2 linked regions of the Homo sapiens genome follow. The protein of the gene in region 1 purifies or fractionates together with the protein of each later gene. This does not show direct contact. Each region holds a gene or a part of one and is shown in the gene's direction. Other genes may lie near its edges.

Evidence for each region. The genes of interacting proteins can lie anywhere in the genome.
Region 2: the proteins of SLCO1B3 (region 1) and ATP11B purify together in Homo sapiens (affinity purification with mass spectrometry; one large-scale study listed by BioGRID and IntAct). This does not show direct contact.

Annotation. Positions count from the first base shown.
Region 1 is NC_000012.12:20,808,805-20,813,897, forward strand, and holds the start of SLCO1B3 (solute carrier organic anion transporter family member 1B3), read left to right. Parts: upstream 1-1,900; 5' UTR 1,901-1,960; intron 1,961-4,719; 5' UTR 4,720-4,834; intron 4,835-5,093. UniProt on the Homo sapiens protein: Mediates the Na(+)-independent uptake of organic anions.
Region 2 is NC_000003.12:182,795,982-182,800,644, forward strand, and holds part of ATP11B (phospholipid-transporting ATPase IF), read left to right. Parts: intron 1-4,663. UniProt on the Homo sapiens protein: Catalytic component of a P4-ATPase flippase complex which catalyzes the hydrolysis of ATP coupled to the transport of aminophospholipids, phosphatidylserines (PS) and phosphatidylethanolamines (PE), from the outer to the inner leaflet of intracellular membranes.

The DNA of each region.
Region 1 (5,093 bases):
AAAAAAAGTGTTGCAATGTGTTTCCTCTGACCACTCTTATTTTTTCCACAAGTCCCACAAAAAGGGAAGTCTAATTACTTACATAGGAAGAAAAAAGGGCACAGAGAATGCTCTTTGACTTCTGAAAACATTCCAGAATTTTACCACTGATAGCGTTAGTTTAGGGATTAGAAAGTTTCTCAGTGCATTTGTACTATTTTATCTTCATTCTATGCATGTATTTGTCCCAAATGAAATTGATGTGTCTTGAATGAAATGGATGTGTGAGGAGAAAACCATTAGCATGAGAATATCCAAACTGTCTTCCCATTCTGAATAAAAGAAAAGCCATAAAACTGATAATTAATGTTTAGTATCTCTGCTATGATGGTTCTCAAAAGCTGACAGTATGTAAAAATTATTCTAAGTGCTTATTTAAAAAGCATAATCTCCGAACTCGTGAATCAGAATCTCTTGGGTGTGGGGCTGGATCGCACTTTTGACAAAGGCTCCCCAGTAGATTTTGACTCAACAGAGGGGTGTTTGGGAGCCTATATCTAATTTTCCCTGCCCCAGGTCTACACTTCAGTGTTCCCCACATTTTCTAATCCTTCTCTCCCTCCACACTCCGGTTCCTTTCATTATTCTAATACTTCCATGAATTAACCAGGTATAGAACTAATCTAGGCTGGGCGCAGTGGCTCACGCCTGTAATCCTAGCACTTTGGGAGGCCGAGGTGGGCAGATCACGAGGTCAGGAGATCGAGACCATCCTGGCTAACATGGTGAAACCCCGTCTCTACTAAAAATACGAAAAAATTAGCCGGGCGTGGTGGCGGGCGCTTGTAGTGCCAGCTACTCGGGAGACTGAGGCAGGAGAATGGCGTGAACCCGGGAGGCGGAGCTTGCAGTGAGCCGAGATCGTGCCGCTGCACTCCAGCCTGGGTGACAGAGCAAGACTCCGTCTCAAAAAAAAAAAAAAAAACTAGTTTATCAAATAACTGTGATATAGAAATTAAATACATATTGCTGCAACTGTATCAACAACTGTCCTGTCAGTGATAAGGGGTAACAATGTTTTCATACATGCATTCTCTCTTTGCTATATACATACACACATACACATAAATACATATATACATACACTCATGCATGTGTGTGTATATATACATGTGAGAGAAGACTCCGTTTATTATTTATATTTTTATAGTACACTTCTAAAACACAGCCATGTGCCTGAGATATAGTAGGGAGTCAAATATGTTTGAGTTACTGAATTAATTAATTTGACTTCATCCTTACTCAAGAAAAGTTTCAACTGAGTGAAGGTCTTCCATTCTCTAAAGAGCAAGTCAATAGAAGGAGATCATTCTTCCTTTACACATTGATGTAAGGAATATATCATACAAACTAGTCTTGATTTTTGTCATTTAGAAGACTAGTCTTGTAATTAATTGGCAATTTAGTATTCCATGTGAGATATCCAGTGTCCATGTACGTCATATTAGATCCATACACATGTAACAAGCAAAGAGGGTATGTTTTATTTTTTGAATGCTAATGTAACATGTAGGGACATTTTAAAAAATCGCCTTGACATATTTTCTATTTGGAATAGTTTTAAATACTTTGGATAATGTGTTGTATTTGTATTTCTAAAGAAGAAAATCTTATGCAACCAACTTAATTGAATAAGAAATAAATCATTCCCAGAAATAATTTATTTTCTAATGTTAACATAATGTGTACATTCTGAGAAATTATTAATAAAATGTTTAAAAGATAGGCTTCTGGGGTGAACTCCTAGAATTAGCTAGGTATGTTTTTTCTGTTTGCCTAGGACAATGACCTAATAAGATGGTTAATCATCATTGGACTCATAAAAACAAACAAATAAAAAGCCAACTAACCATTTAAAGTGAGACTTTAACATCAGAAAAAGGATGGACTTGTTGCAGTTGCTGTAGCATTCAAAGTCAAGGTAAGAACCGTCGAGGTTGTCTAATTAAAACATTTCTTTTATGTAAGAAATTTTAACAAATTTCAGTGAAAATGTTTTTGGTAGTTATGATAAATATTACAGATTTTATGCTCTGTGTCTTCTCCACACTTTTGTTCTGAGCCCTTAAAGCCTTGTAAATATCCCTTCTAGAAATAGAAGAGCCTCAGATTTATATACTCAAAAATAAGAGTAAATCATACCTTTATAAAGTGAAAAATAAAGTTTGGAGTCCTATTTCTATTGCTTTCTAAACAAATGAAACATGAAGTCTGAAAGGATGGACTTCTAGTTACTCTCTTAAAATATACTATAAGATAATTATTTGTATAAACTGTATTGAATTACTATACCAGGCTCCCTATTTCTTTGATTTCACTTTAACTGGATAAGTAGGAGTGGGCGGGTGGAGGGGTGGAAAATATGTTTCAAAGTCACTTAATCACCTCACTTTCCTCCATTCAACTCGTTTGATTTAGGGTGAGGGGAAAGAGATTTTCTAGATAACTTTTTTATCTCTGTTCAAATAAGAGAAAAAAATCTTCTGGGCACAGCTCTTGGAAAGAATTAACAGCTCAATAAATAATGGTCCCCTTCACCCATTCAGGAAGGTGGCTTCCCTGATAAGACAGTTATTTTTATTGTGAAAGTAAGGTGGGGATGCAGAAATTCTCTCCTCTGAACAATCTAAGAAGTTAGGAAATGCTGTTTTCCCTTTTATCCTCCTCAGTTCCATAGGTACATGCTAGAAACTGGGTCACTTGGCCTGCACTGGTTTTCTATAACCCCTTAAATATGAAAAGCTAAACAGAAATAAGCAGAGGCTGGTAAGATTCTGCCCTCTACTTCAGCCCAATCAAACTGTGAAGAACTGACCTGTTCTGTTCAGGGAAGAGTTGCAATGCTGCATACAAATGCCTGTGGCTCTGTCTATAAACATATTGTGTCCTCAACATTTATTTATGTCAATAATTTGGAACTCAGAAATAATATGTTCAGAGCAAAATATATTAAACGCTTCTAAATAAGGCTTAAAATGCCACAATGAAGTAAAAAGTGTGGTATTTATTCAAGGCTAAATTGATATTCAAGTTTTGTAGGTACTTTGTACTTACTTGATACATTTTTTTTTTTTTTTTTTTGAGAAGGAGTTTCGCTCTTGTTGCCCAGGCTGGAGTGCAATGGCGTGATTTCAGCTCACCACAACCTCAGCCTCCTGGGTTCAAGTGATTCTCCTGCCTGAGCTTCCAGAGTAGCTGAGATTACAGGCATGTACCACCACACCCAGCTAATTTTGTATTTTTGGCAGAAATGGGGTTTCTCTGTGTTGGTCAGGCTGGTCTCGAACTCCCAACCTCAGGTGATCTGCCCGCCTCGGCCTCCCAAAGTGCTGGGATTACAGGCATGAGTCACTGCTCCCGGCCTACTTGATACAATTTAACCTTTCTGAGAGATGAGAAACCAAGTGCCCACATTTCTTATTTTTCTGGATGGGTATTTTATCTGAACATAAAAGAGAGAGGTGTGGAATAGTTGTCTTGGAAAGTACGGGAAATAACAGAAAAAAGTAATGATTATTCGGGTATGTTCTCCAGTGGTACAGAAGGATGAGAGGATGAGAGAGTTTATTTCAACTAGAGGTAAATAGGGAAACATTAAAGTGGTGTGATTTGGAGCCGCATTACAGCCAAGAGATAGGGAAGGACATTCCAGGAATGGAAGACATATACATGAAGGTAGAGAGCTTTTCTGTTGGGACAGTGGTTCCATACATCTGCAAGTGCTTATGGTTGTATTGGGAAATGGGACTAAAAACTTGGATTCATTTAGGCTGTGAAGACCCTCAAATAGGAAGTGTAAGTTTTATTTTTGTTGTAAGAGGGATCTTTGAATGATTCCAAGAATGGACATGATATGCATAGGAAAGAAAGCAAGCTGGAAGACAGGACAAGTAGAAATTAATCAATTGAAAGAAACAAGGCTTGAGTGGTGAGATAATAGTCTTCAAGCCTTCAAGAATATTTGTTTAGTATAAAGAAAAAGAAAACTCTAAAGCTGAAGGAAGACTATCTGCCTTGCAAGTCGTTCAAAAAGATTTGCAATTATAGAATTAATTGGTAAAAAATAAATATTTTCCAACTTTTAAATTATGAAGAAACAGAGATATTCGTGGAAAAAGTGGTGTAAATTTATTAAGGGGCTGCTTATTACCTTGAGACCACCAAATTATTGATTTTTTTCCTCACTTTACCTACAAAACACATACAAAAAGTGGAATAATTGAACTTCTCTTAGAGATACATAGGTATGGGTTTCTCCATTCATGAGTGTATTTATATACACTCGCATATACATAAGTGATAATATCTTCAGATATTGATTTTTCCATATTCATGCATTATCCACTAAATATGCATGATATATATTTATGGTTTTTATGCATTTATAATATAGAGAATCAATAAATCCTTGTTGAGTAAATTAATGCATAAAATATGCAGTAGATCTTCATTATTCACAGATTCTATATTAGAAAATTTGTCTAAACACTAAAATTTGTTTGTGACACCAAAATTAATACTGCTGGGCTTTTGTGATCATTGGCATGCATGAGCAGAGTGGTGAAAAATTTGAGTTGCTCTGTTTCCAGTTGAAGTGGAACAAAGTGAAGCTCTGCCTTCCTCTCTCAGCTCCCATACTATAAACTTCACAGTGCATTTATCGCCACATTGTTTCCATAGTTGTGCTTTGCGATGCTGAGTTTACTGTTTTAAATGGACTTCAAGCATAGCCCTGAAGTGTTGTCCCGTTGTTCCCACCTCCTAGAGGGCCTGACAGAAGAGGTACATATGCTATGTAAGTTTCCCTCAGGCATGAACTACAGTGCTATTGGCCACTAATTCAATGTTAATGAATCAACAGTATATACTAAGGTGTCTTTAAACAAAAACATACATAAAACATTATGTATTAAGTTATGTATTGATCCGTTGATTAAAATATTGTGACCAAAGCCACACAGTCACCTAACACTGTATCTCTTCTAGGAATGATGGATTAATATTTGCAAATTCAGTGTTCCCAGCAACTTTATGGAACATAATTATTGCAAAAC
Region 2 (4,663 bases), on another chromosome or scaffold:
TCGTTATATGAATCCCGATTTTCAACTAATGTCTCACAAAAAAGTCCTTTTATTACAGAAACAATGCCTATGTTCTAGTAATTTCTTTTTAATTAAAAAAAAGTGTGACTCCTTATGACAAAATATTTTCACTACTTGAGAAGATGGAAAAATCAGAAAGTTGACAGAAGCTTGATCTTTTCTATTGGGAAAGTAGGCTGAAAATAAAAAGATTGGAATATCCTTTTTTGTTTTTCTTTTTGGCACACAATGTTAAAGTTACTTGACACTAAGAAAATTCTCTTATGGTGTCTTTGTGGTACAGTTAGTATTATTCAAAGTATACTCATTTTCAGTACCATATTTTATGTATTAACTCATTAGAGATGACAATACCTTGATTATAATTATGGAAATGCCATTAGCTACTCACTGTATTCTAATATTTAGACCTGTACGGTAGCCATTAGCCACAAGTGGCCATTAAAATTAAAATTGGAGCCATATGTGGGTATTAAAATTAAAATTTGAATTCATGTGTCTATTGGCTGCCATTGGCTGCCATATTGGACAGTTCATATTTTCATTATCACAGAAAATTCTATTGGACAGCACCAATTTAGACTTTTAAATGAAAGTCTGTGTCAGTACATATTTGAATGTAATACTACATTTTTAAAGCACTTGCTGTGTGCTGGTATTAACAGATGCTGAATACCAGGGATACAAATGTTGGTCAGGGTCACACATACTCTACATAAGTAGACATTGGATACATGTTGCTGAACAAATAATTAATAGATGAGGAAAGAAAGAATGAATCTGTAGTGTTGTTTCTGTGTTTAGAGACAAAAATGACCAAATTTAAGATTGACTAGCCCAGAAAAAAGTTAGAAAATGAGTAATTACACAAAAACAGTATTACTAGGATAACTGTTTCTTAAACTGTTCCATAAATGTAATCCCTTTAGATTGTATTGGCGATGGTGGTAGGAGGCTGCTAAGATTGTCTTCTGATTAACTGAGAAAAATGAGAAGGTCTTAATCTGAACTCCCTCAACTTTCTGTTCTTCCTCACACTCACCGAACTTGCTTATATTTTATACTGGTACTTAATTCTTCCCTTCACAGTCACAAGGAAGATGCAACCCTCTTTTCCAAGATAACAATTCCACTTAAGCTTTTGATCCTTTTCTTTCATTCTGCTGTCCATACTCCATCAGTTATCATTAGTATGTTTCTTTTCTTTCTCTTTACTTTTTCTCTTAACTTGTGAACATGTTCAAGCCTCTCTGCTACTTTTTCCTGTACCTGTAACTGGCAAATTCTTTTTAATTTTCTGAAAAACAGATCTATAAAACTGTGCTGGCTGATGTATTTGGAATGTGGCTAGTTTGAGTAGAGTTATTCTTACGTATAAAATACACATTGGATTTCAAAAACAGTATTAAAAAATGTAAAACCTGGCCGGGCAAGGTGGCTCATTCCTGTAATCCCAGTACTTTGGGAGGCCGAGACAGGCAGATCACCTGAGGTCAGGAGTTCGAGACCAGCCTGGCCAACATGGTGAAACCTCATCTCTACTAAAAATCCGAAAATTTGCCTGGCGTGGTGATGGGCACCTGTAATCCCAGCTACTCAGGAGGCTGAAGCAGCAGAATCACTTGAACGTGGGAGGCAAAGGTTGCAGTAAGCCAAGATCATGCCACTGGACTCTAGCCTGGGTGACAGAGGGAGACTCTGTCTCAAAAAAGAAAAAAGAAAAAAGAAAAAAGAACTCTCATTTTTTTGTTAGTTACATGTTGAGATATTATAATATTTTACATATATAGGTAAAGTAAAATAAATTTTTGGAATTTTGTTTCTTTTTACTTTTTTTAAAGTGGTTAGAAATTTTAAAGTTACCTACGTGACTTGCATCTGTTGCTCATGTTCTATTTCTATTAGTGCTGCTGTATAACATTAAAAGTGAATTCCTGTATCCTGGTAAGAATAGTGAGATCCTGTCTCTAGGAAAGAAAAAAAAATTAGCTGGGCATTGTGGTACTGACTTGTAGTCTCAGCTGCTTGGAAGGTTAGGGTGGGAAGGTCACTTGACCCAAGTAGTTTGAGGCTGCAGTGAGCCATGATCATGCCACCACACTCTAGCCTGGGTGACAGAGTGAGACCGTCTGAAAAGAATAGTGAGCTCCTGTTTTTACAGAACACATTGTGGAAGTCTAGATATCTCACTTACTAGACTAGACTGTAAATATCTTAGGATAAGAACCATATCTTACTTGTATTTATATTCCTTACACTCAAGACAGCAGTTGGCCCATTGTAGGTATTCACCTGCCAAATGTTGGTTGAATAAATGAATGAGTATCAGATCTAATTCAGCATCAGTTTGAAAATACCTGCATTCTCTGCCTCTTTTCCAAGGAATGAATGAAGGAATAGAAAAAGGAAGCACTGGCCTAGGGTGGTATTTTTTTTGTGGATAAGTTTTAACCTCAAGAATTAATGTTTAAGAACCTAGATCTGTGAGTATGTGCTGCTTTATCTCTATTTTCAGACATATATTCTTAGATACGCAGTTTTGCATTTGGTTAGGAAGAGGATAAAGCATTAGAGGAAACTCAGGTATTCCCAGCAACACTGAAGTAGGGACCTTGCTCCAGATCCTCTAAAGAGCCTTATGATTACCATTATTGTCATTAAATGTTTTCTAGACCTGTGCTATTCAACATGGTATCCACATATGGCTGTCGAAATGTAGGCACTTGAAGTGTGTCTACTCTGAATTGAGATGTGTGTGAATGAAATATGCAGTGGATCTTGAAGACTTAGTTTGGAAAAAGGATGTAAAATATCTCATTCATTTTCTAATTGATTACATGTTGAAATTATATTGGGTTATATAAATATACATGTATTTGGTTAAATATTAAATGCTACTTGTTTATTTTTACCTTTTTTTAAATGTGGAAACTAAGAAAATTAACATATGTGGCTTAGGCCATATTTCTGTTCTACAGCATTGTTTTAGATTATGGTAACAATATATAATGCCTGGCATAGGCAGATTCAAGAAAGTTTTTGATTCTAAGGACTTTATGACTTTACCCAGGCTTTTTTTCTGTGAGTTTTCTATTTTCAGAGTGTTGGTCTGCATTATATCTAAGAGACTAGAAGCTGCCTGATAGACTAACTGCATCTGGTCCCTTGGAAATAATTTATCAAGTCAACATCGACTGCTGTGGGGTTCTAGATTTAGCCATGCTGTTTATTCTTCATTTTGTTTCTGCAGTTGTCTGAGTGCTGATCTTTCTTTCTTTCTTTTTTTTTTTTTTTTGGAGACAGTTTCGCTCTTTCGCCCAGGCGGAGTGCAGTTGCGCGATCTCAGCTCACTGCAAGTTCGCCTCCTGGGTTCCCACCATTCTCCTGCCTCAGCCTCCGGAGTAGCTGGGACTACAGGCGCCCACCACCACGCCCAGCTAATTTTTTGTATTTTTAGTAGAGATGGGGTTTCTCCGTGTTACCAGGATGGTCTCGATCTCCTGACCTCATGATCCGCCCGCCTCGGCCTCCGGAAGTGCTGGGATTACAGGCGTCAGCCACCATGCCCGGCCCGAGTGCTGATCATTCTAAGCAAGATAATATTCATAATTAGCTTAGTTTTTACTAGAAATGTGCATTTTTATTGTTTAATTTTAATTTTTTTATTCTCAAAAGGAAGTAAACGTGTATTTTTTAAAAAATATCAAAATGAAACTCAAGATTTGAGTTTATAAACATAGTTGAAAGATTTTATTCTCAGATATTCTTTATTTTGCTTTTTTTCCTGGAGTTTCTCTGTTATAAAATTTAGTATAAGAAAAACATTCTAGGCCAGGTGTGGTGGCTCAAACCTGTAACCTCGGCACTTTGGGAGACACACAGGAGGATTGCTTTGGGCCAGGAGTTTAAGGCCAGATTGGGCAACATAGTGAGACCCTGTGTCTACAAAAATTAAAAATTAGCTGGGCATGGCGGTGCCTGCCTTTAGTCCCAGCTACTTGGGAGACTGAGGCAGGAGTATTGCTTGAACACAGGAGTTCAAGGCGGCAGTGAGCTATGATTGTGCCAGTACATTCCAGCCTGGATGACAGAGTAAGACCCTGTCTCTAAAAAATAAAAATTAAAAAAAAGAAAGAAACAAAAACATTCTTGATTGGATATTTATATGGGAAATACTATGAGACTTATTTTTAAGCCAATACTTCAAGTTAGAAATTATATATATAATTTTTTTTTTGAGATAAGGCCTCACTTTGTCTCCCAGGCTGTACTGCAGTGATGTGATCACAGCTCACTGCAACCCCAAACTCCTGGGCTCAAATGATCCTCCTGCCTCAGCCTCCTGAGTAGCTAAGACTTCAGGCATTTGCCACCACACCCAGCTAATTAAAAAAAAAAAAAAATTGTAGAGGTGGGGGTCTCACTATGTTTCCCAGGCTGGTCTCAGACTCCTGGACTCAAGCGATCCTCCTGTCTCAGCCTCCCAAAGTGCTGAGATTACAGGTGTGAGCCACTGTGCCCAGACGATGTTTGTATTTAATTTTTTTGCATATATGGTTATAATGCATTCAGTAAACATTCACCTGTATTGTGAATGACATGCATTGAATTTCTGTTACTTCTCAGCACTTGGGAATGGCTC